Linked DNA regions of Homo sapiens. The protein of the gene in region 4 purifies or fractionates together with the protein of the main gene of each other region. This does not show direct contact. Each region holds a gene or a part of one and is shown on either strand. Other genes may lie near its edges. The genes, in order: ARHGAP29, COA7, PML, ACOT8, UNK and OSBPL11.

Region 1 (3,500 bases), on a different chromosome or scaffold from region 4:
TAAATTAATCTTTACCTGCACAAATTTGTTAGCCTGGAGAGCTGCAATTGTTTGTTGTAAAAGGTGACTGCTTTCTATATCATTAAGAAGAGCATTAGTAAACAGAGACTGCAGTGGCATGAACTCCTAAAATTTAAAATTGAAAAGTAAATTTTACAATAGAAATGGCACTAGAATTCCAAACACATCACTACCCTTCTTCAAAAAGGGAAACTAAGTTTAGACTTTTGCCCCCAGAAAAATAACTAGTCAAAAACATGACTATGAGAAAAATATAGAAGAAAATTAATTATAATTAATCATAAAACTGGTTAGCAAAAGTAGTAGCTATCAAGACAATCAGTATTTGTATAAAATTGTAAATTTCTGGCTGGGAATAGTGACTCATGCCTATAATCCCAATACTCTGGGAGGCCAAGGTGGGTGGATTACTTGAGCTCAGGAGTTTGAGACCAGCCTAGGCAACATGGTGAAACCCCATCTCTACAAAAACATGCAAAAATTAGCCAGGGCATGGTGGGCACCTATAGTCCCAGGTCATCAGGAGGCTGCGGTGGGAGGATCGCTTGAGCCTCGGGGGACAGAGGTTGCAGTGAGCTGAGATCACGCCACTGCACTCCAGCCTGGGTTACAGAGTGAGACCCTGTCTTAAGACGAAAAAAAAAGCGTATTTCCTAGATTTTTTCATAATGGACATCCATCTAAACTTAAAATAATTTTGTCAATAAAAAGATCAGCATTTAAGTGCTTTCCTATATTAACTGAAATATTCTGATTTTGCAAATTATTGGGAGTTCATGAGTAGTTTCTTATTATAGAACCCCCGAAGTTCACAGAACACTTACCTGAATTCCAATGTTAGTTCTAGTTGCCTCTGCCAACTTGACCATATTTCTAGTGGACTCCAATTCTGAAAAGTTCAAAGAGGGTATCAGAAGGTAAAATCAATTTATTTTTCCCCCTGTATACTCTAAAATTACTTGTAGTAATTCCACAATTAAGAAGTGATCACAAATACTAGTGTGTATCAAGATATAATACAGCAATACTTCTTTCTTCCTTTTTTTTTTTTTTTTAAAAAGAGACATGGTCTCACTACGTTGCCGAGGCTGGTCTCGAACTCCCAGGCTCAAGTGATCTTCCAGGCTCAAGTGATCTTCCAGCCTCAGCCTCAGGAATAGCTGGGATTACAGGCATAAGCCACCATGTACAGCTCTTAATGCAGCACTTCTTAATTGTGAGTGCTCATCAGAATCAACTGGGAAACTCTTTCAGAATATATTTGCCTCCATTTCACCTCTCTGAAGGATAGGACCTAGGCTTGTGTACTGACCCTCTACAAGACTATTCAGGTGATTCTGATTAGCATTCTCTATTATAAGCAAATAATACAGTAGAAAGAGCATAGGCTTTGGGTAGATTCTATATTCTTCCAGTTATGCTATATGACTTTAAGCAAATCTGCTATATGACCTTAAGAAATCTCCTGTCTTGTCTCTCTCAGCTGTAATATAGGAAAAACAATTCTTGTCTTGCCTACTTCTCAGAGTTTTTGTAAGAAGTAAATAAGATAATGACTACGAAAACATTTTGATAACTGTAAAACACTGAGGAAATATTAGCTATTAAAATGTTTCTTCTCTGTTTCCATTGCCTTCTACTCATACATCTATTGTTGCTGTTATCTCCTGACCATATTATCTGACTGCATTTCCTCTTACCCACTAGAGTATGACTTCTTTGAAGGCAGAGACAGTATTCTATTTGTCTTTGTGTCCCTAGGTCTAGTAGTTGGTCCACAGTAAATACTCACTAATTCCATCTAGTGTAAGAAGAGTCTTTTCTGGATAATGGTTTTATTCATTATAATGAAACAGGTACTAATTTGGAATTCTATTACTCATAATCTGTAAAAAATGAGTTAGAAACAACTTAATTATTATACTCTAAATCAGATGCTTTAAAAGGCAACTCACCCAAGTTAAGCTTTTTTTCAACCCATGAAACTATGTTCTTAGTATATTTTGACCAAGTTTTAGCATATGACAAAGCCAGCTCGATAGAGTCAGTGTTCTTTAACAGCACGTTGTCTAGTTCTAAAGGGGAAAAATTTCCTGAAAACAAAAATATCAAGGTAAGTATATGTTAAATGTGATCACATCATAACTCCAAACAAAGAAGCACTGAGATCCTAAGATACTAGTCAATAAAAACTGGTTTTTAAAAAAAATACAAGTGACAAATTTACAATTAAAAGGCCAGAGTTTAAACTTAAAATGGTTTCAAACTATAATGTATTTTTATCTTAAAATATATTTCTATTATCCATCAAGTTAAAAGCTTTACACAATTCTTGATCAGTCTATATCTCATATTATCTATCTACTCTAGCAGGTTATTTCCCTTAAGCTCTATATGTAAAACTTTATATATCATTTTGCATTAAAAATGAATACACTAGGTTACTAAGCAAGAAGAGATTAATCCAGGACATTCATAGAAAGTAACTACAAGAAGTTTGTGAAAAGTTATAAACACCTTGAGCATTACCTTTTTCACTGGATGAGTCCACTGATTCCACAGAAACATTTTCAAACGACTTACAACATGGAAAAAGATAAATTTAAAATTAGAGAAGAACACAAATCTTTGCTTCAGAATTTTTTTGCCCCAATTTGTTACTCTGACATAATTCCTGCTAAAGAATTTCAAGTATTTAAAACTTAAAGGCCTTAGAAGTCTGTTTAAGTGCCAGAACACTTCATAAGAATTTCATAGCTTTTTACAACAGGAGTTCCCAAGATCCAAGAATGAACAACCTCACTGTTGTTACTAACAGCATTAGTTAACATTAATGAATCCATTCAAAACTTTAAATTTTGCAGATAACAAAAATATTAGTCAAGAAGTTAGAGAAGCAATGCAAACATATTGCTATCTAAACAGAAGACACAGATCTGCCTCTTCCAGTCATCTTTTATCATTTTACTATATGATAAGCATGTCTCTGAAAGTCTATTACATAGCTTAGCACAAAACTTTCTATGATGATGGAAGTGTTTTATATCTGTACTGTCCAATAAAGTAGCTAATAGCTCCATGTAGCTATTTGAACATTTAATAAGTGGCTAGTGTGACTAGGAGGTGGAAGTGAATTTTTAATTTTATTTAACTATTATAATTAAATTTAAAGAACTACATGTGACTCGTGCTACTTTATTGCATTGTGCTGGAAAACATCATTTACCAAAATTTTGAGATCTTAAACAAATTTAATCGATTTAAATTGGGCAATACAGGGTATACAGGGATTCAATGCAAAACTGATCGAGGAGACCTGGGTCTGAAGTCCAGCTCCATTATTACCTGTATGACACTGGGCTACATATTTTAAGTTCACTAACTTTGTAAGTCCTTCTGTAAAAGAGGGATAAGAACACTACTTTCAAAAGACTGTTTTAAGAATTAAGATGATGTAGGCCTAGCGCAAGGCATGGTAC
Region 2 (3,500 bases), on a different chromosome or scaffold from region 4:
CCTTAGTGTAGGCTACATCTAATAAATATGTGATAGAAATGAAAAGTGTGTGACTTCCAAAGATAGGTCATAGAAGACACTGTGGATTCTATCTTGTTGTCTCCTTTAAATTACTCACTCTGGGGGAACCCAGACGCCATGTCATGAGGACACTCAAGCAGCCCATGGAGCGAACCATGTCATGACGATCTGAGCTCTCCCAATAACAGCTGGTAAGGAACTAGAGGCCTCTGCTACCAGCCATCAGAGTGAGTCATCTTAGAATTGGAAACTCCAACTTCAGTCAAGCCTTCCAATGTCTCCAGCCCTGGCTCCCTGGCCAATGTCTTGACTATAACCTCATGAGATACCCTGAGGTACCCCCACTAAACCACTCCCAAATTCTTGACCCACAGAAACTATTGAGGTGAACAAAAATAACTATTTTGTTATTTAGCCATAGATAATGTAAACACTATGCCAGTGATAACTACAATTAGAGTACAAGGAGAAAAGACAGAAGGAAGACAATAATTACTGACCCCTTACTCTGTGCCAAGCACATGCTGATGCCTTTTCCTATGCTGTCCTACTTAATCCTCACCACCCTACAAAGCAAGTACTATTTCCCTCCAATTTACAGGTGATGTAACTGAGGCACAGAGTCGAAGTGATTGGCTCAAGGTCCCACTACTTGCCAATAGCATTCCCTAAGGTTTACCTAACTTGAAAGGCTGTGTTCTTCCCCCCATCACTCTGCTGAACTCCTACCTCTCCATCTTCCTACAATGCACTTTCCCAATGCCTGCGAGACCCTTCTGCAAGAGCTTATCATGGGGCTCAGGTGTGAGGCCAGCACTGCTATCAATGACAAGGACCCAAAAGGCAGGCCCTCCTTACCTTTTCCAGTCACATAGTAGGCCCCCAGTTTGTAGCAGCTATCACTGTGCTGGTTCTCTTCACAGTTAAACTTCAACACCTTGGCAGCCTCATCAAAATTCTTCCGGATCCCTTCCAAATAGTCCACCAGCCGATAGCAACCTGCGAGAAGAGGGCAAGGGTTGTTCTTCATGTCTGGGGCTGCTGCTCGCAGTGGGGACTTGGGGGTAGGGGGTGCCCAGGTGTGGCAGGCCAGGTGATGTCTTTTAAGACAGCCCCTGTCCTCCTGATGTGTGGCAAGTTGGCCTTACCACAAAGAATGTAGGTGGTGTTTAGCCATTCCTACAAATGGCATTGTCTCCCCACAGCCATGGACTGAGCAATGCATGGCTTGGGGAGACCTCAGCCCCTGCATTGGCTCTACCACTCACCAGCCCTTCTGCTCCCTGTCAGCCACGCCCAAGTATCCACTGACTTCCATGATTGAAACTTTGCTAGTTTTGGAATCTCTCATGAAGTTAAATGGTAAAAACAGTGAAAACCTAAAAGGCTCATAGGCTAGTCTTTGTAGCAGCAAGAAAAGGGTGCTGGGCCAGGCTCGGTAGCTCATGCCTGTAATCCCAGCACTTGGGGAGGCTGAGGCAGGAGGATCACTTGAGGTCTGGAGTTCGAGACCAGCCTGGACAGGGTAAAACCCTGTCTCTACTAAAAATGCAAAAAAATTAGCCAGGAGTGGAAAAATATAAAAAAATTAGCCAGGTGTGGTGGCGCACACCTGTAATCCCAGCTACCTGGGAGGCTAAGGCAGGAGAATCGCTTGAACCCAGGGGGCGGAGGTTGCGGCGGGCCGAGATCACGCCACTGCACTCCAGCCTGGGTGACAGAACGAGACTCTGTCTTAAAAAAAAAAAAAAAAAGAAAGAAAGAAAAAGAAAAGGGTGCTGTAATGACTATAGCTTACTCCTCAGCCAGGGTAGGAACATGAAAGCCAAAGAGAAAGAGTAGAGGCGGCAGCTTCTAATGAAAATAGGCTCTACTTCCTTGGCAGTCTCCCAGTCCCAGTAAACCTCTTTCCTTAATCTCTCTCCCCTCTTCTTTACCCCCAGTGACAACATATATCTCTCATTCATTTTCGTTCAACAAATATTTGAGCATCTCTATGCATCTATGTACCAGACATGGTTCTAGATGCTGAGAATATACTCATTTGCCCTCCTAAAATTTACATTCTAGGGGAGGAAATACAATAAATAAATAAATGAACAAAATTTATTCAAACAGTAATAAATGTTATAACAACTCAGAAACAGGAAGTGAAATACTGCATGTCCTCACTTATAAGTGGGAGCTAAATACTGTGTACACATGGACACAGGGAGTGTGGAATAATAGACACTGGAGATTGGGAAGGGTGGGAGGATGGTGAGGAATAAAAAATTACCTAACAGGTACAAGTGCATTATTTGGGTGATGGTTGGTTACATTAAAAGCCCAGACTTCCCCAGCAATTTGGGAGGCCGAGGCAGGCAGATCACCTGAGGTCGGGAGTTCTAGACCAGCCTGACCAACATTGAGAAACCTCGTCTCTACTAAAAATACGAAAATATTAGCCGGGCATGGTGGCGCATGCCTATAATCCCAGCTACTCGGGAGGCTGAGGCAGAGAATCACTTCAACTCGGGAGGCGGAGACTGCGGTGAGCCGAGATAGCGCCATTGCGCTCCAGCCTGGGCAACAAGAGCAAAACTCCATCTCGAAAAAAAAAAAAAAAAAAAAGCCCAGACTTCACAACCAGGCAATATATCCATGTAACAAAACTGCACTTGTACCCCTTAAATTTATACAAATAAATACATAAATGCTATGACTGAAGTAAAACAGGATAACTGTTTGCTGTCAACTTTGGGTGAATGGCTAACAAAGACTGAGCCACTGGGGAGGGGCTCACCAAGGACTGTGACCTCAATAACAAGAAAGCACTAGCTATTTAAAGACAATGAAATGGGAGTGGGGCAGGGATTTGGAAAAAATTTAAAAATAAAAAATAAAAAATGAAATTAAAAGACAATAAAATGGGCAGGGGCACAAAGTCCTGGCACAAGGAACAGTAAATACAAAGACCTGAAAGAATAAGTTTGGCACGAATAAGGTACAACATGGCTGAACCAAGGAGGAGGGTCAGGAAATGAAGAAGGAAGGTAGGGACCAGACCATAGGCCTCGTGAAACATAGGATGGAGTTATGATTTTTTCCAACTGAAACAGTAAACCACTGGAGGGTTTCAAGAAAATAAGTAATATGATTCAGGCCAGGTGTGGTGGCTCATGCCTGTAATCCCAGCACTTTGGGAGGCCAAGGCGGGTAGATCACTCGAGGTCAGGAGTTCTAGACCAGCCTGGCTAACATGGTGAAATCCCGTCTCTACTAAAAATACAAAAATTAGCCAGGCTTGGTGGCGCACGCTTGTAATTCCAGCTACTTGGGAGGCTGAGGCAGGAGAATCACTTGAACCCGGGAGGCAGAGGTTGCAGTGAGCTGATATCGTGCCACTGTACTCAAGCCTGGGCAACAGAGCAAGACTCAGCCTCAGGGAAAAAAAAAAAAAAAAAAAAAGCCAGGCGTGGTGGAACACGCCTGTAATC
Region 3 (3,500 bases), on a different chromosome or scaffold from region 4:
CAAAGTGCTGGGATTACAGGCGTGAGCCACCGCGCCCGGCCGATTTCTTTCTTTCTTTTTTTTTGAACAAACATCAGCCCCCAAAATTATTGTAGATATCTAGGTCAATCATTTAACATGTTCTGTTTCTTCCTCTGGGAAATATGTATAACGACAATTCTCACTCAAGGGGCTCTTGCAAAGGTTAAGTGGCATGGCTGACATGTGTCAAGTCTGTACCATCCTGCAAGCAGCAGCCCAGTCTGGCATTTGTGTAAGGCGGTTTCAGTGGAGAGATGTGTGGAAGGGTGCACCCCACGATGCTCACCTGGTGCTTCCTCGGTGGGGAAGGGAAATTCAGAAGTGGTGGAAAGAGATGATTGTCGTTTCGTATATCTTTGTATTGTTTCCCGGATGTTGAAATTGTTACTGTAGTAACTTTTTATACTCATGTGTTATTGGTAGTTTGGATACTATCACCATAACCACAAACACTGAATTAGGAAAAGCAGAAACCTAGAAACATGCCATGATTCAAAGTCTGGTATTTTTGGAAGAGGAATTTAATAACGAACGTTTTAAGAGGAAAAAGTCAGGAGAGTCCTAACCCAGGCCAACCTTGTGTGTCCACAGCATCTACTGCCGAGGATGTTCCAAGCCGCTGTGCTGCTCGTGCGCGCTCCTTGACAGCAGCCACAGTGAGCTCAAGTGCGACATCAGCGCAGAGATCCAGCAGCGACAGGAGGAGCTGGACGCCATGACGCAGGCGCTGCAGGAGCAGGATAGTGCCTTTGGCGCGGTTCACGCGCAGATGCACGCGGCCGTCGGCCAGCTGGGCCGCGCGCGTGCCGAGACCGAGGAGCTGATCCGCGAGCGCGTGCGCCAGGTGGTAGCTCACGTGCGGGCTCAGGAGCGCGAGCTGCTGGAGGCTGTGGACGCGCGGTACCAGCGCGACTACGAGGAGATGGCCAGTCGGCTGGGCCGCCTGGATGCTGTGCTGCAGCGCATCCGCACGGGCAGCGCGCTGGTGCAGAGGATGAAGTGCTACGCCTCGGACCAGGAGGTGCTGGACATGCACGGTTTCCTGCGCCAGGCGCTCTGCCGCCTGCGCCAGGAGGAGCCCCAGAGCCTGCAAGCTGCCGTGCGCACCGATGGCTTCGACGAGTTCAAGGTGCGCCTGCAGGACCTCAGCTCTTGCATCACCCAGGGGAAAGGTAAGCACGCACGCCACCTTCCTGGGCGGCCTGTGCCTCTGCTGCACCCTAGGGAAGGCGAGTCAGAAGAGATCATCTCCATTTGACAGAAAAGAAAACTGGGTGTTTATTCAGTCTTTGGGGGTTGGTAAGGTCTTAGGTTCCAGGGCACAGGATAAGGGGGAGATGAGGCCCTGACAAAGGGCTGCAGCCACCCAGAGGGGACACATTTTACTAATTTACAAGACTCTGTGGATTGACCTAGCGATGACTCATGGGGAACACGTGAAAGTTGAAAAACTGCAAAGCTGAGAATCAGACCCAGTATCATTTTGGCGCCAGAGGGACCAAGCACTTCAGGAGGTTCTCTTAAGCCACCGGTGTCTCGGAACAGAGAAGTCAATTGGGACCTGGGGTTACGGTAGAAGGGGGCTAAGAAAACCTCCTGGGGATGGTTGGATGCTTACCCAAAACCATACAGTGGCTCAGTGGAGGAGATCCCTTGTCTGCAGGATGACCTGCTGTCTGCCAACCTTTGCGCGCCCTGCCTAGTGTTGGACGCTTGAGAGGTAAGGAGACACAGACTAGTTTCTGATCTCAAGGAGCCAGAGCCACTTCACGTAGCTGGAGAATGAGACAGTGCTCAGCTCTGCAATCCAAATCCGGGAGATGTAGCAGCTGTGTATTAGCTGGAACAGGGGGGCTTTCAAAATAAGGGGTAGGGGGAGTGTGCCAGAGAGTCTCCAGGAGTCTTTGACTAAATCTCCAAGCTGGAATGTGAGCTCTGAGCAGCTAGTATAGGATGCCCTTACTGGGAAAGGGGAGGGAGGCTATGGAATCTGAAGGCACCTGGGTAGGGTGCCAGTGACAAAGAGCTTATTTACTTCTCCTGGAGCTGGACATGGGTCATGAAGGATAATCTTAGAGGGCCTGGACCTGTGCCTTCTCCACCTAGGTAGTGAATGTCACCCATATTAAGGAAATGACCCCACAGAGTTTACACAGCTTGCCTTGGGTGTTATAACTGGGCAATAGCAGAGAGAAGGGTTATTTTATTCTGAAGCATAAGAGATTTAGATTTAATAAAAACCAGGCTGCAGATAAGGAAGATCATGGAGCTCTCACTATATGTAGAGAGTCAGTGAGCCGGTAGTGATGGCTTTATGATTGCGCACACTTAGCCTTGCTGTTGGCTCAGAGATGGAGAGAGGTACACTTGGGGTTTGGAGCCAAAAGCAAGCACTCTAATGCCACCTCCTTTTCCCTTCTGGCTGGGTTCCTGCCCACTGCATTCGAGAGAGCTCTCCTTCCAGCTGCCCCTCCAGGGAGTTGTCCAGTGCTTTGGGATGCCCTGGAAAATAGGTATCCTGGAAAAGCAACAGGGACCTCCTCTCTATCACTGTCCCAGGTCAGGATGTCCCTTACCAGCATGTCCTTGACCTGCCTGTGACCTTCTTTGTGTTCTACAGATGCAGCTGTATCCAAGAAAGCCAGCCCAGAGGCTGCCAGCACTCCCAGGGACCCTATTGACGTTGACCTGGTGAGATGGGTTTGAGGTCTGAAGGGGTGGTGGTGGGGCCCAGCAGGTCAGGCAGGTTGTGAGTCCTGCTGTCCCTGTGTGTGCAGGGAGAGCGTCTGAGTGAGGGACAGCAAGTGGCTGGACTGGAAATTTCAGTGAGAGGAAGTAAAGGAAGACATTAAAGAAGGGTTGGCTGGCTAGCTGGCTCTGACTCTAGGCTCCTAAATGCCAAAGTTGCTCTTGATGGGCCATGAGCCAGGTTCAGTGGGGGTTAGATGTGGGGTAGACAGTCGGCCACAGATCAGGGCTGCTGCAGAGGGAATTCCAGCATTAGATGGCATATTAGTGCCTTCCAGCCATGAGAAACTATGGTTGTCAGATGTATGGTTAGATATAGGGTCAGCAGTCCTGAGGGATGTGCAGATGTCCTCTCCCCTCCTACACCCTACCCCCAATGTGGGAGCCTTCTCTTGGAGTCAGAATAGGTGGGCCTTCCCCTGCTCTTTCCCCACAGATGGTTCTTGGAAAGGAACGGGGAATGGTGCCAGGAGTCAGATTTCGATCCCAGTTGCCCGGGTTCTGCTGGTGTGATTCCAGGGCCACCATACATGTAACAAAGCAGACTGTCTCAGGGTTCAAGGTATCCATGTCCCATCTAATGCTGGCATTCCTTCTGCAGCACCCCTGACCTGTGGCTGTCCAGCTTTCATGTACACATCTCCAGGGACAGGAAGCTTGCTCATTCTAGAGGCAGCTGCTCCCAACTCTGGACTGCTCTGACTTAGAAAGTGCTTTTCCGAGTGGAAATG
Region 4 (3,500 bases):
TAAAAATATAAAAAAATTAGCCAGGTGTGGTGGTGGGTGCCTGTAGTCCCAGCTACTCGGGAGGCTGAGGCAGGAGAATGGTGTGAACCCGGAAGGCGGAGCTTGCAGTGAGCCAAGATCGTGCCACTGCACTCCAGCCTGGGCGAGCACTCCAGCCTGGGCAACAGAGCGAGACTCTGTCTCAAAAACAAAAAACCTATGTGTGGTGGCTCATGCCTATAATCCCCGCACATTGGGAGGCCAATGCGGAGAATTGTTGGAACCCAGGAATTCAAGACCAGCCAGGGCAATAAATCGAGACCTTGTCTCTACAAAAAAATAAATAAAAGGAAAATAAAAGCAAAACCTATGCTAAAAAACAAACAAAAAAAACCCTCACTGTTTTCTTTCCTTCCCTGTTACCCCCAGAGCAGATGCCCTCATGTGTTCTGCGTAGATCCCCAGCTGAGAAGAGTTTGTGGACCTTTACAGTATGTGATTTGTATTAAGAAAACCATGGGGTTTCCCCCTTCATTTTGTAAATATGAAAGTTATCCCTGTAATGGTAAATACACTTTTTCATACTGTCCCGTGTCTCTTACTCCTCATCCCTGAGGAGTATTGATTGGCCCCCCTCTTCTCGGCCCCCAGTCACTGCTATAAAGTATTTGAATACTTACCTTGGGCTCAGCCAGGTTCTTATCTTTATGCTAGTTGGGAGTAAATATGTGCTTTGTTTCTTTAATTTGTTTGTAAGTACCAGCCTTTTGATATTGTAATCCTTCCAGCCTAGTGAAATACCTGGCTGTTTTCTTTTGTGTGGGTGGGGGCATTACTTGAACTCTGAATCTCTTCATCCTGTGATGGAAGAATTCAATGAGTCTTTGCCAGTAAAGTATCTAGTGCAGGGCTTGGCATAATCTAGTTTTCCATAAATATTATTAGTTTTTGATGATTAACTTATGGGAATAATTAAAATTTGCATGATACAGAGCATAGTTGTGTGCATTATCTTGTTTAGTCTTCATAAGTAAACATGGGTGGCAGGCATTCCTGCCATCATTCTTACCTAAGGAAACTGGGACCTGAAGAGGTTTGGAACCAGCTCCCACAGTGCCCAAGGAGGCAGAGCCAGGATTTGAACCTGGTTTATGTGTCTTTGAGTGCCAAACTCTTTCCTGCTTCTTTGCTTCGCTCTTGGGCAATAATTCTAAACAATGAGAGAGCTGCCAGGGTACCCATCCCAGGTTCTGGGGAAAAGATCCTCTTTCTTGGAAAGTCTTCATCCAGGAGCAGCGTGAAATGAGCTGTGTCCAAGCCACCATTTCAAAATAAATAATTATTTGGCCGGGCGTGGTGGCTCATGCCTGTAATCCTAGCACTTTGGGAAGCCGAGGCGGGCGGATCACCTGAGCTCAGGAGTTCGAGACCAGCCTGGGCAACATGGTGAAACCCAGTCTCTACTAAAATACTAAAAATTAGCCAGGCATGGCGGCATGTGCCTGTAGTCCCAGCTACTCAGGAGGCTGAGGTAGGAGAATTGCTTGAACTCAGGAGGCGGAGGTTGCAGTGAGCTGAGATCATGCTACTGTACTCCAGCCTGGGCGACAGAGCGAGACTCTTGTCTCCATCAAAAATAAATAAATAAATAAAAATAATTATTTGTGCCCTTGCTTGTGTCTTGAAAGGCTGCAAGATAGCTAAAATAATTGGTAGTTATTATGGGAATATTAAAAGTCAAAGGACATTAGGCCAGTAGTAATGGGATTTGGGAGAAGCGATCATGTCAAAAAATTTGGCTAAGCCATATTGTTGCAGTTTCATACAAGGTTTAGTTCTGAGCTTCCTGGCTGCAAGGCAAAAAGGGGAGAGCTCTTATCTGTTTGTGGTGTGACTCTGCCAGCTATATCAGATATTAAAACCAATGCTGTTTTTTGGCTGGGCATGTGGCTTATGCCTGTAATCCCAGGACTTTGGGAGGCCGAGGCGGGCAGATCGGCTGAGGTCAAGAGTTCGAGACCAGCCTGGACAATGTGGCGAAACTCCATCTCTACTAAAAAAAAAAAACACACACAAAAATTAGCCAGGTGTGGTGGTGCACACCTGTAGTCCTAGCTACTCAGGAGGCTGAGTCAGGAGAATCGCTTGAACCCTGGAGGTGGAGGTTGCAGTGAGCTGAGATCGTGCTACTGTACTCCAGCCTGGGTGACAGAGCAAGACTCCATCTAAAAAAAAAAAGGAAAATTAGCTGGGCGTGGTGACCTTAGCCCGTGATCCCAGCTACTCGGGAGGCTGAGGCTGAGGCTGAGGCAAGGAGAATTGCTTGAACCCGGCGGCTGGAGGTCGCAGTGAGCTAAAACTGCGCCACTGCACTCCCACCTGGGCGACAGATCGAGACTCCATCTCAAAAAAACAAAACAAAAAAGAGATGTTTCAATTACATTTTAAAAATAAAAGATGTTATGGGGGAGGGGGAGGGTTGGTCCTTGGCCATTTATCAAATCAGTTCTTTTTCTAAAAGCCCAGGAAAGAATGTGAATTAGTTGGGTTTTTGTTTTGTTTTTAGTTTTTCTCTACAGAGGTAAATTTAGAGCTTGAAGAATTCAGAACAAGGTCAGCAAACATTCTAGAAAGGGCCAGATAGTAAACATTTTAGGTTTTGCCAGTGAAAGCAACTATAGACAATATGTAAACAAATTAGCATGACTTTATTACAAAAAAATTGTATTTTAAGGCAACAGTTTCCTCATCTGTACAATGGGGGTAAGAGTGGCTCTACATAGTTATTGTGAGACCAACATGAGAAAACATACCCTCCTGTCCAATGCTGTCAGGCACCCTGCATCACTCCATAATCATTAACTCCCTTCAATATGCCTCAGGGCCTACCTGCTCTGTTCCAATAACAATTTTCAAGAATAGGGCTGGAACTCATTCACACTGAAAGGTAGACCAGAGTACTGAAGTTTCTGTGATCCTCCTCAGGAATCTGCACTTTAGCTTACCTGCAGACCAAGGATTGGATTAGAGGTTTTTTTTTGTTTTTTCCCCCCAAGTTTGGTGGTAGGGAGGAAGACTTCATTCCCAGTGTCTGAAAGCAGACTGCACAAGTAACTTTGTCTAGTGTCTGGACTCTTGGTAAGCCCTTCTCAAATGCCTTTAACCTTGAGGAGCTCGCACTCTGATAGAAGTGCTGCTGGTGGCAGTGCCTGATAACAGAGAGCTGAGCAAGCCAGTTGACCTCAGACAGTGATGTTTATTGCTGTTGATTGAGCCCTGGTGCCTGGTTGACTCCCCATTTGGATCAGAGTGAAGGAAGCAACACTTCTCTAGACCTGCTTCTTTCATCTGAAGGTTGAAAGTCATCCCCAAGATGTCTCATGGCCCAGATGTCAGGGTTCCTCAAGGTCAGCCTGACTCAGACAAAGTGAGAACTTCAGGGAAACCAGGGAAGTTCTCTTCCTCTCCAAATCTTCCCTCACCTGCTTGTTGTTGGCTGCCTTATCCCTGGCCAGTGCCTT
Region 5 (3,500 bases), on a different chromosome or scaffold from region 4:
ACCTGCTATACACCAGCCACTGAGTGCCCAGAGACCCGCCCACCCCCACTGATCCCGGGGCTGAGACCCTTGAGTTGTAACATCAGGGGACAAGACCCTTGTCCGAGGCAGGGACCCTGGATGGGGATGTGATTTCTCCTGGAAGTATCAAAGAAGATTCAGAAAGGAGAGGCATTTGGGTTGGACATGACTGGCAGACGGTGTCAGAAGTCAGGAGTCAGGATTGGCATAGGAAGCAGCTGAAGGAAGGGCACAGGGGCTTGGGAGAATACGGACCCAGCGTAGCATGGGCGTGAAGATGCAGCGTGGGCAGTAGACGAGGTGGTCAGGGTCAGATAGTCCCTCGGGAGGTCACATCCCACTCTTCTCTGTCCCTAGAGTCTGCTTTGGATGACCTGGACCTGAATGAGTTTGGCGTGGCCGCCCTGGAGAAGACTTTCGATAACAGCACAGTGCCCCACCCAGGAAGCATCACCATCGGTACTGGGTGTGGGTGGGCAGGGCAGCCTGGAGGACTCCTCGGGTTCCTGCCTGGCTCAGGCCCCTTGCTCTGTGTGGCCCGCCTGGCTTCCGCTGCCCTCACCCAGCCCGTCCTCCCCGGGCCTCTCTTGCAGGCGGCAGCTTGCTGCAGAGCTCTGCACCCGTGAACATCCCCGGCTCCTTGGGCAGCTCTGCCTCCTTCCACTCAGCATCCCCGTCCCCTCCCGTCAGCCTCTCCTCGCATTTCCTGCAGCAGCCCCAGGGCCACCTGAGTCAGTCGGAAAACACATTTTTGGGAACCTCAGCATCACATGGATCTTTGGGTAAGAGAGGGAGTGGTTCACTCAGGAGAACTGGGGCAGGAACCTGCGCCTTTAGGAGGTGCCTCTGGCCACCCCATCTACGGCATATCAGCTAGGCTGGGGGTTAGGGCAGAGGCCTTGGGCGAGGAGGCAGAGTCAGATTCCTGTCTGTGTGACCCTGGACAAGTGATTGAGCCTCTCTGCCTTAGTTTCCTCTGCTGTGAAATGGGTATAACGGCAGCATCCACCTCCTAACGTTGTGAGCATTGAATGGAGTAATGGGGCTGAAGTGCTAGGCACGAGGCCAGTGCAGGTGAGAGCAGGGGTCTCAGTTGCCAGGGCTGGGCCTGGTCTCTTTCACAGCATGGTTCTGTTCTGCCCAGTCACCCCAGGCTCCGAGAGGCTGGCTCGCACCAGCCAGGTTCACAGGGGACCAAGGGAGAAGCCAGACAGGTTAACCCCTGGCTTCGGGTGCCCTTCCTGCCGGGCAGAGGCTCCAGGGAGGCCCAGGGCTGGCCCAGAAGGCTGTTTGCCCACAGAATTAGAATGGTATGGAATGGGGGTTTCTGAGGGCACTTCAAGGTTTAGTGGCTAGAAGAATGGCACAGAGGCCTGTGCCACTGCGGGCCGGCTGTGCATCTCCTCTTGTGTGTGTCAGGGGATGTTCCTGAGGGCGGGATGGGAAGCACATGGCACCACCGCTCTCACTCTCCCCCAGCAGCTGCAGACACCAGGAGCTCCCTCCCCGAGAGTGCCAGCATTTTGCTCGGGCCCAGGGAATGAGCCCTTCAGAGTTCTGATTGGGTTTGGTGGCTTCCCTTATCTCATTCCTGATCCCAGAACAGCACATGGATTTCTCAGCGCCTTCCAGTTTGAAGAGGCTGTTCTCTGTTACGTTGATTCTGTCAGCTTTAGGTGCTTGGTGTTGCATTTTTCGGACTTGCCCCATATTCGGATAGGATCTGTTTTTTTTTTTTCGAGTAGGGTCTCAGTCTGTCACCCAGGCTGGAGTGCAGTGCAGTGGCATGATCCTAGCTCACTGCAGCCTGGAACTCCTGAGCTCAGGTAATCCTTCCACATCAGCCTCCTGAGTAGCTGGGACCACAGGCGTGCACCACCATGCCCAGCTTCTGGTGGCGTCTAGACTTAGCTCCACTTACTGGCCACACACTCCTTCCTGCACCATGTGACTATTGAGCACAGGTGTATTGATACAGGTGTAAGTGCAACAGTCCCTGCTGTCCAGCAGCTGTGGCCAGTGTGGGAAGCAGAGGTGCCCAGCCATTGGGATCCTCCTGAGAATCATAGAGGGGCCTACCTGGACAGCAGAGTCAGGAGAGCTTCTCCAAGGGAGGAGGAGAGATGGGTGGGACAGGAGAGCTTGCTGCAGGGCTGGTCTCATGTGGGTGGGGTGACCCTGAGGTCTTCCTCTGGGATGGGGCAGATGGCTCAGACAGTGCATGCCACAGGGTCTCCGCACAGGACCATGTCCCTCCTCTGTGGGTGCACTTGTGTGTCTCAGAGAGCAAAGCGTCTTAAATCTGGTTCTGGAACATCCTGGTTGGATTAGTGGGAAAGGGAGCAAGGAAGAAGTCACCAGAAAGTACATATGGGCAGAGTGAGGCCAGAGGTGGATATGGGTCCTTCTCGGAAGCCCGGGGCTGCCCTGGGGGCCAGAGCAGGGGGACCTGATGTTAGTAAACATCTGTTGAGCGAGTGAGCAGAGGGCAGCTGGGTTGGCGGTGGGTGGGAGGCTGTGCACGCAGCATAGTTGACTGGAAAGCATAGGCCTTTGGAACCACACTCCCTGTCTGTGTCCTGGCCCTACCACTTACAATTTGTGTGATTCTTGGTAAAACATTTTATCCAGGGTCCTTGTCTGTAAAACAAGGGGGATGGCCCCAAGGCTCCCTGAGCTCTTCCTGCCCCAGCTCTGCCATCCGATGAGGCTCTGGCCTGTCTTTTCCCCTTTATCTCTTCCTGGGCCTCACATCAGGCTGCAAAAAGGCCCTAGCCTAAAAGTGAAGCCACAATCATAAATTGCCACTATCGGGGGCCTGGGACTGCTCTCACATGCAGTACTTCCTGAGTCCCCTGAGTTACCCGGTGAGGCCAGTGTGGGAGTCCCATTTCCCACATGAGGGTGCTGAGCCTCGGAAGTTGAGTGGCACCAACTAGCAGGTGTCACTCAAGGTTAGGTCTGACTCCGCCCACGCCACCTGCACCTTCACAGCCTTCCTGTCCCTGCAAAATTCTCTGGCCTGACACTAGCTGGAGCCTTGCACACCCATCCAGTGGACAGCCAGTCCCTGGAACCTCTGAGGCAGGGCTGGCCAGGGCCTGGGCCCAAAGCCCTCCGGAGCTGATGTTCTTCCCCTCCTTGGGGCAGGTCTGAACGGGATGAACAGCAGCATCTGGGAGCATTTTGCCTCTGGAAGCTTCTCCCCGGGCACTTCCCCCGCTTTCCTATCAGGGCCAGGGGCTGCCGAGCTGGCCCGACTTCGGCAAGAGCTGGATGAAGCCAACAGCACCATCAAGCAGTGGGAGGAGTCCTGGAAGCAGGCCAAGCAGGTACCAGGCCCCGTGCCTGCCGGCCTTCCCCAGTGCCAGGTGGCATCCAGCCCAAGACCTTCCTTCACAGAGTGGGCGTGGGGTGGGGGAAAGCGGGGGCTGGAAGAACAGAGCAGAAACTCAGTTTTGTTCGCTCGCTCTCCCCCT
Region 6 (3,500 bases), on a different chromosome or scaffold from region 4:
CTTTGGGAAGCCAAGGTGGGCGGATCACTTGAGGTCAGGAGTTCGAGGCCAGCCTGGCCAACATTTTTAGTAAAGAAACAACTTTTTTTAGTAAAGAAACCTGTCTTGACTAAAAGTACAAAAATAAGCTGGGTGTGGTGGTGTGTGCCTGTAGTCCCAGCTACTTGGGAGGCTGAGACAGGAAAATCACTTGAACCCGGGAGGCAGAGGTTGCAGTGAGACAAGATTGCGCCACTGCACTCTAGCCTGGGCCACAGAGAGAGACTCCGTCTCAAAAAAAAAAAGAAAGTTACAATGGTTGAACCACCTTGTGAATATACTAAAAACCACAGGATTATACGTATATACTTTAAAAGGGTGAATTTTACGGTATATGAATAGTATCTCAATTTTAAAAGGCAAAAAATAAAAAATATTCCTTCCTCATTTTTGTATATTAATATTGTATATAAATCTACATACCTTTCCAATAGCTTCAGTATGATGCTGTGTACATATCTGAAGTCTGCTAACCCAGTGCTGTCGCTCTTTTGCATCTGTAGCTGTTAAAAGAATGTAAAAATTATTTTATATTTATTTATTCTGGAACACAATTAATTGCCTACAGTATGAAGATCAGATCACTGAAAAGCAGATACTGGTCTTACTCTCACTAGAGCAAACTTCCCTGACTGGAGGGAGGCAGGAAAGAGGCCAAAGCACCAACGTTGTTAGGGAACACAGTAGCTGGATGTAGTTACTTCATTAAAAGGAGAAATTACATGCAGTGAGGTGAGGATGAGAGACTGACATGTTGCAACTCATAAAAATAGGTTCTTATTTAAAGAAATAACCCCTTAATTATTTGATGTATAATCAATACTTTCAGATCTGCAGGAGCACGCTCACTTAGGATTACCATTATACTTTGTGTATTCATTAAATAAAAAACTTCTACACAAATTAAATTTATCTTAACAGAAGTTATACGTTATTTTAATGAATGACATTATAATAAATCCCAATAATGTACATTAGTTACTGAAAACTGCAAAAAGGGCACGTAAACTAAACCAAGTAAAGGGGTGAAATACATAAAAAATATCATTTAAAGTCTATGTTTCTAGATTTTCAGTAATCAGAGTTTCACCTACACCGTTTTTCAGAGGGGCCAGTCCTAAACAAACATACATTGTCCCACTTGAAAACAGTTACTTATTACAAAAGATTTCATAAATTCTCAAAGCAGTTCCAAGGTTCAGAATATTGTATTTACATCACTGATGACAGCAGTTTCTATTTCCAAAGCCCATATGAAAGCATGTAAGACACCAACTTCTCAAAAAAAGAGGAAAATCACAGTATTAATTCTCATATTTTGGTCATACCTCTGAGTTTATATTGTTCCCCACTGGCAGCGTTTACAGTGAAGGTGTGAGAATCCTCATCACTGGGTGATATTACAGCTCCTGCAAGCTGCAAAGTTCCTCTAGGTTTCTGATTTCTAGACTGTTCATTCACAAAGTACTCCAACAGCCCAGCTTCATTGTTTAAAACAAAAAACCTGTAATGATTTTTTAAAATCCATAATTTGTAAACATTTTCCCTCAGCAAACTAAAGCAAAGCAAACTTCAATCACTTACACATTTCAGGGTTTTGCTCTTAAAAATAAAATTTAAAAGCATTTCAAGAGGTACCTGGAAACACTACACTGAATTTTCCAGCAGGGAAGATTACTAAAAATCGAATGAGTTAGGCCAGGCGCAGTGGCTCACGCCTCTAATCCCAGCACTTTGGGAGGCAGAGGCGAGCGGATCACCTGAGGTCAGGAGTTCGAGATCAGCCTGGCCAACATGGTGAAACCCCATCTCTACTAAAAATACAAAATTAGCCAGGTGTGGTGGTGCATGCCTGTAATCCCAGCTACTCGGGAGGCTGAGGCAGGAAAATCGCTTGAATCTGGGAGGCAGCGGTTGCACTGCACTAAGATCGAGCCACTGCACTCCAGCCTGGGCAAAAAGAGCAAAACTCCGTCTCAAAAAAAAAAAAAAAAAAAAAAAAAAATTGAATGAGTTTAATAAAAGATATAATAAACCCTTCAGCTGAGGGAGAGGCATTTATTAAGAGGCCTATCAGTTAATGCACAAAAGGAAGCAAAGATACCATATCCTTTCAGAGACAGATTTTTCCCCAGAATTCATTAACAGAGGGTAAACTGCCAAAGGACAAATGGTAGTGAAAATTTTTCTTTAAAATTCACCGGAAATAAATCAAAATATGAGCTCTGAGGTTAAGGCAAGATATACTAGGCAAGATATGCATTGTGATTTAAGAATTAGTGAAATATACAACAAGAATAACAGGGTAAAAAAGATTTTGTGAATGAATCATTAAATAAGTCAAAACTAAAGATTACTTCTCCTGTTTAAAAATGAAAAAGCTGCAATTGGAGATGCTGAAACATAAGGACCTTGAAACTAAATGATGAAATGCTGATACACTCTGGAAAAGAATTTGATGAAATACTAATACACTTTGGAAAAAAAAATTCTGATTTGGTTCTAGATTAACTACTTTCAAAAATACATTTCAGAAATTCCAATTTAAGTAGTGTAATAATTTTTTTTTTTTTTGAGATGGAGTCGTGCTCTGTTGCCCAGGCTGGAGTGCAGTGGCACCACCTTGACTCACTGCAACCTCTGCCTCCCAGGTTCAAGCGATTCTCATGCCTCAGCTCCCAAGTACCTGGGATTACAGGCGCCCACCACCATGCCCAGCTAATTTTTGTATTTTTCGTAGAGATGGAGTTTTGCCATGTTGGCCAGACTGATCTCAAACTCCTGAACTCAGGCGATCCTCCCGCCTCGGCCTCCCAAAGTGCTTGGATTACAGGTGTGAGTCACCTCATCTGGCCCCTTTTTAAAAAAGGAACGCTAGGCCAGACACGGTGGCACACACCTGTAATCCCAGCACTTTGGGAGGCCAAGGCGGGTGGACTGCCTGAGCTTAGGAGTTTGAGACCAGGCTGGGCAACACGGTGAAACCCCGTCTCTACTAAAATACAAAAAACTAGCTGGGCGAGGTGGCGTGCACCTGTAATCCCAGCTACTTGGGAGGCTGAGACAGAAGAATCACATGAACCCTGGAGGCAGAGGTTGCGGTGAGCTGAGATTGCACCACTACACTGCAGCCTAGGTGACAGAGTGAGACTCCATCTCAAAAAAAAAAAAAAAAAAAAAAAAGTAACTCTAAAAAGGGCTGGATGAGTTGAGATTGCTTGAATCCAGGAGTTCGAGACCAGTCTGGCCAACATGGCAAAACCCTGTCTTTACAAAAAAAAATACAGAAATTAGATGGGTGTGGTGGTGCATGCCTGTAGCTCCAGCTACTTAGGAGGCTGGGGCAGGAGGATGATTTCAGCCCGAGGTGGAGGTTACAGTGAGCTGAGATCATGCCACTATACTCCAGCCTGGGCAACAGAGCAAGACCCTGTCTCAAAAATAATTAATTAATTAATTAA

Evidence for each region.
Region 1: the proteins of ACOT8 (region 4) and ARHGAP29 purify together in Homo sapiens (co-immunoprecipitation; one large-scale study listed by IntAct). This does not show direct contact.
Region 2: the proteins of ACOT8 (region 4) and COA7 purify together in Homo sapiens (co-immunoprecipitation; 2 studies listed by BioGRID and IntAct, with this or other methods). This does not show direct contact.
Region 3: the proteins of ACOT8 (region 4) and PML purify together in Homo sapiens (affinity purification with mass spectrometry; 4 studies listed by BioGRID and IntAct, with this or other methods). This does not show direct contact.
Region 5: the proteins of ACOT8 (region 4) and UNK purify together in Homo sapiens (co-immunoprecipitation; one large-scale study listed by IntAct). This does not show direct contact.
Region 6: the proteins of ACOT8 (region 4) and OSBPL11 purify together in Homo sapiens (co-immunoprecipitation; one large-scale study listed by IntAct). This does not show direct contact.

Annotation. Positions count from the first base shown.
Region 1 is NC_000001.11:94,203,085-94,206,584, forward strand, and holds part of ARHGAP29 (rho GTPase-activating protein 29), read right to left. Parts: intron 2,600-3,500; coding exon 2,551-2,599; intron 2,115-2,550; coding exon 1,977-2,114; intron 911-1,976; coding exon 846-910; intron 127-845; coding exon 16-126; intron 1-15. UniProt on the Homo sapiens protein: GTPase activator for the Rho-type GTPases by converting them to an inactive GDP-bound state. Has strong activity toward RHOA, and weaker activity toward RAC1 and CDC42. May act as a specific effector of RAP2A to regulate Rho.
Region 2 is NC_000001.11:52,691,848-52,695,347, forward strand, and holds part of COA7 (cytochrome c oxidase assembly factor 7), read right to left. Parts: intron 1,021-3,500; coding exon 880-1,020; intron 1-879. UniProt on the Homo sapiens protein: Required for assembly of mitochondrial respiratory chain complex I and complex IV.
Region 3 is NC_000015.10:74,022,216-74,025,715, forward strand, and holds part of PML (protein PML), read left to right. Parts: intron 1-612; coding exon 613-1,193; intron 1,194-2,641; coding exon 2,642-2,712; intron 2,713-3,500.
Region 4 is NC_000020.11:45,850,893-45,854,392, reverse strand, and holds part of ACOT8 (acyl-coenzyme A thioesterase 8), read left to right. Parts: intron 1-439; exon of another isoform or gene 440-470; intron 471-3,500. UniProt on the Homo sapiens protein: Catalyzes the hydrolysis of acyl-CoAs into free fatty acids and coenzyme A (CoASH), regulating their respective intracellular levels. Displays no strong substrate specificity with respect to the carboxylic acid moiety of Acyl-CoAs.
Region 5 is NC_000017.11:75,819,306-75,822,805, forward strand, and holds part of UNK (RING finger protein unkempt homolog), read left to right. Parts: intron 1-378; coding exon 379-480; intron 481-614; coding exon 615-803; intron 804-3,171; coding exon 3,172-3,353; intron 3,354-3,500. UniProt on the Homo sapiens protein: Sequence-specific RNA-binding protein which plays an important role in the establishment and maintenance of the early morphology of cortical neurons during embryonic development.
Region 6 is NC_000003.12:125,578,498-125,581,997, forward strand, and holds part of OSBPL11 (oxysterol-binding protein-related protein 11), read right to left. Parts: intron 1,544-3,500; coding exon 1,368-1,543; intron 543-1,367; coding exon 463-542; intron 1-462. UniProt on the Homo sapiens protein: Plays a role in regulating ADIPOQ and FABP4 levels in differentiating adipocytes and is also involved in regulation of adipocyte triglyceride storage. Weakly binds 25-hydroxycholesterol. Interacts with OSBPL9 to function as lipid transfer proteins.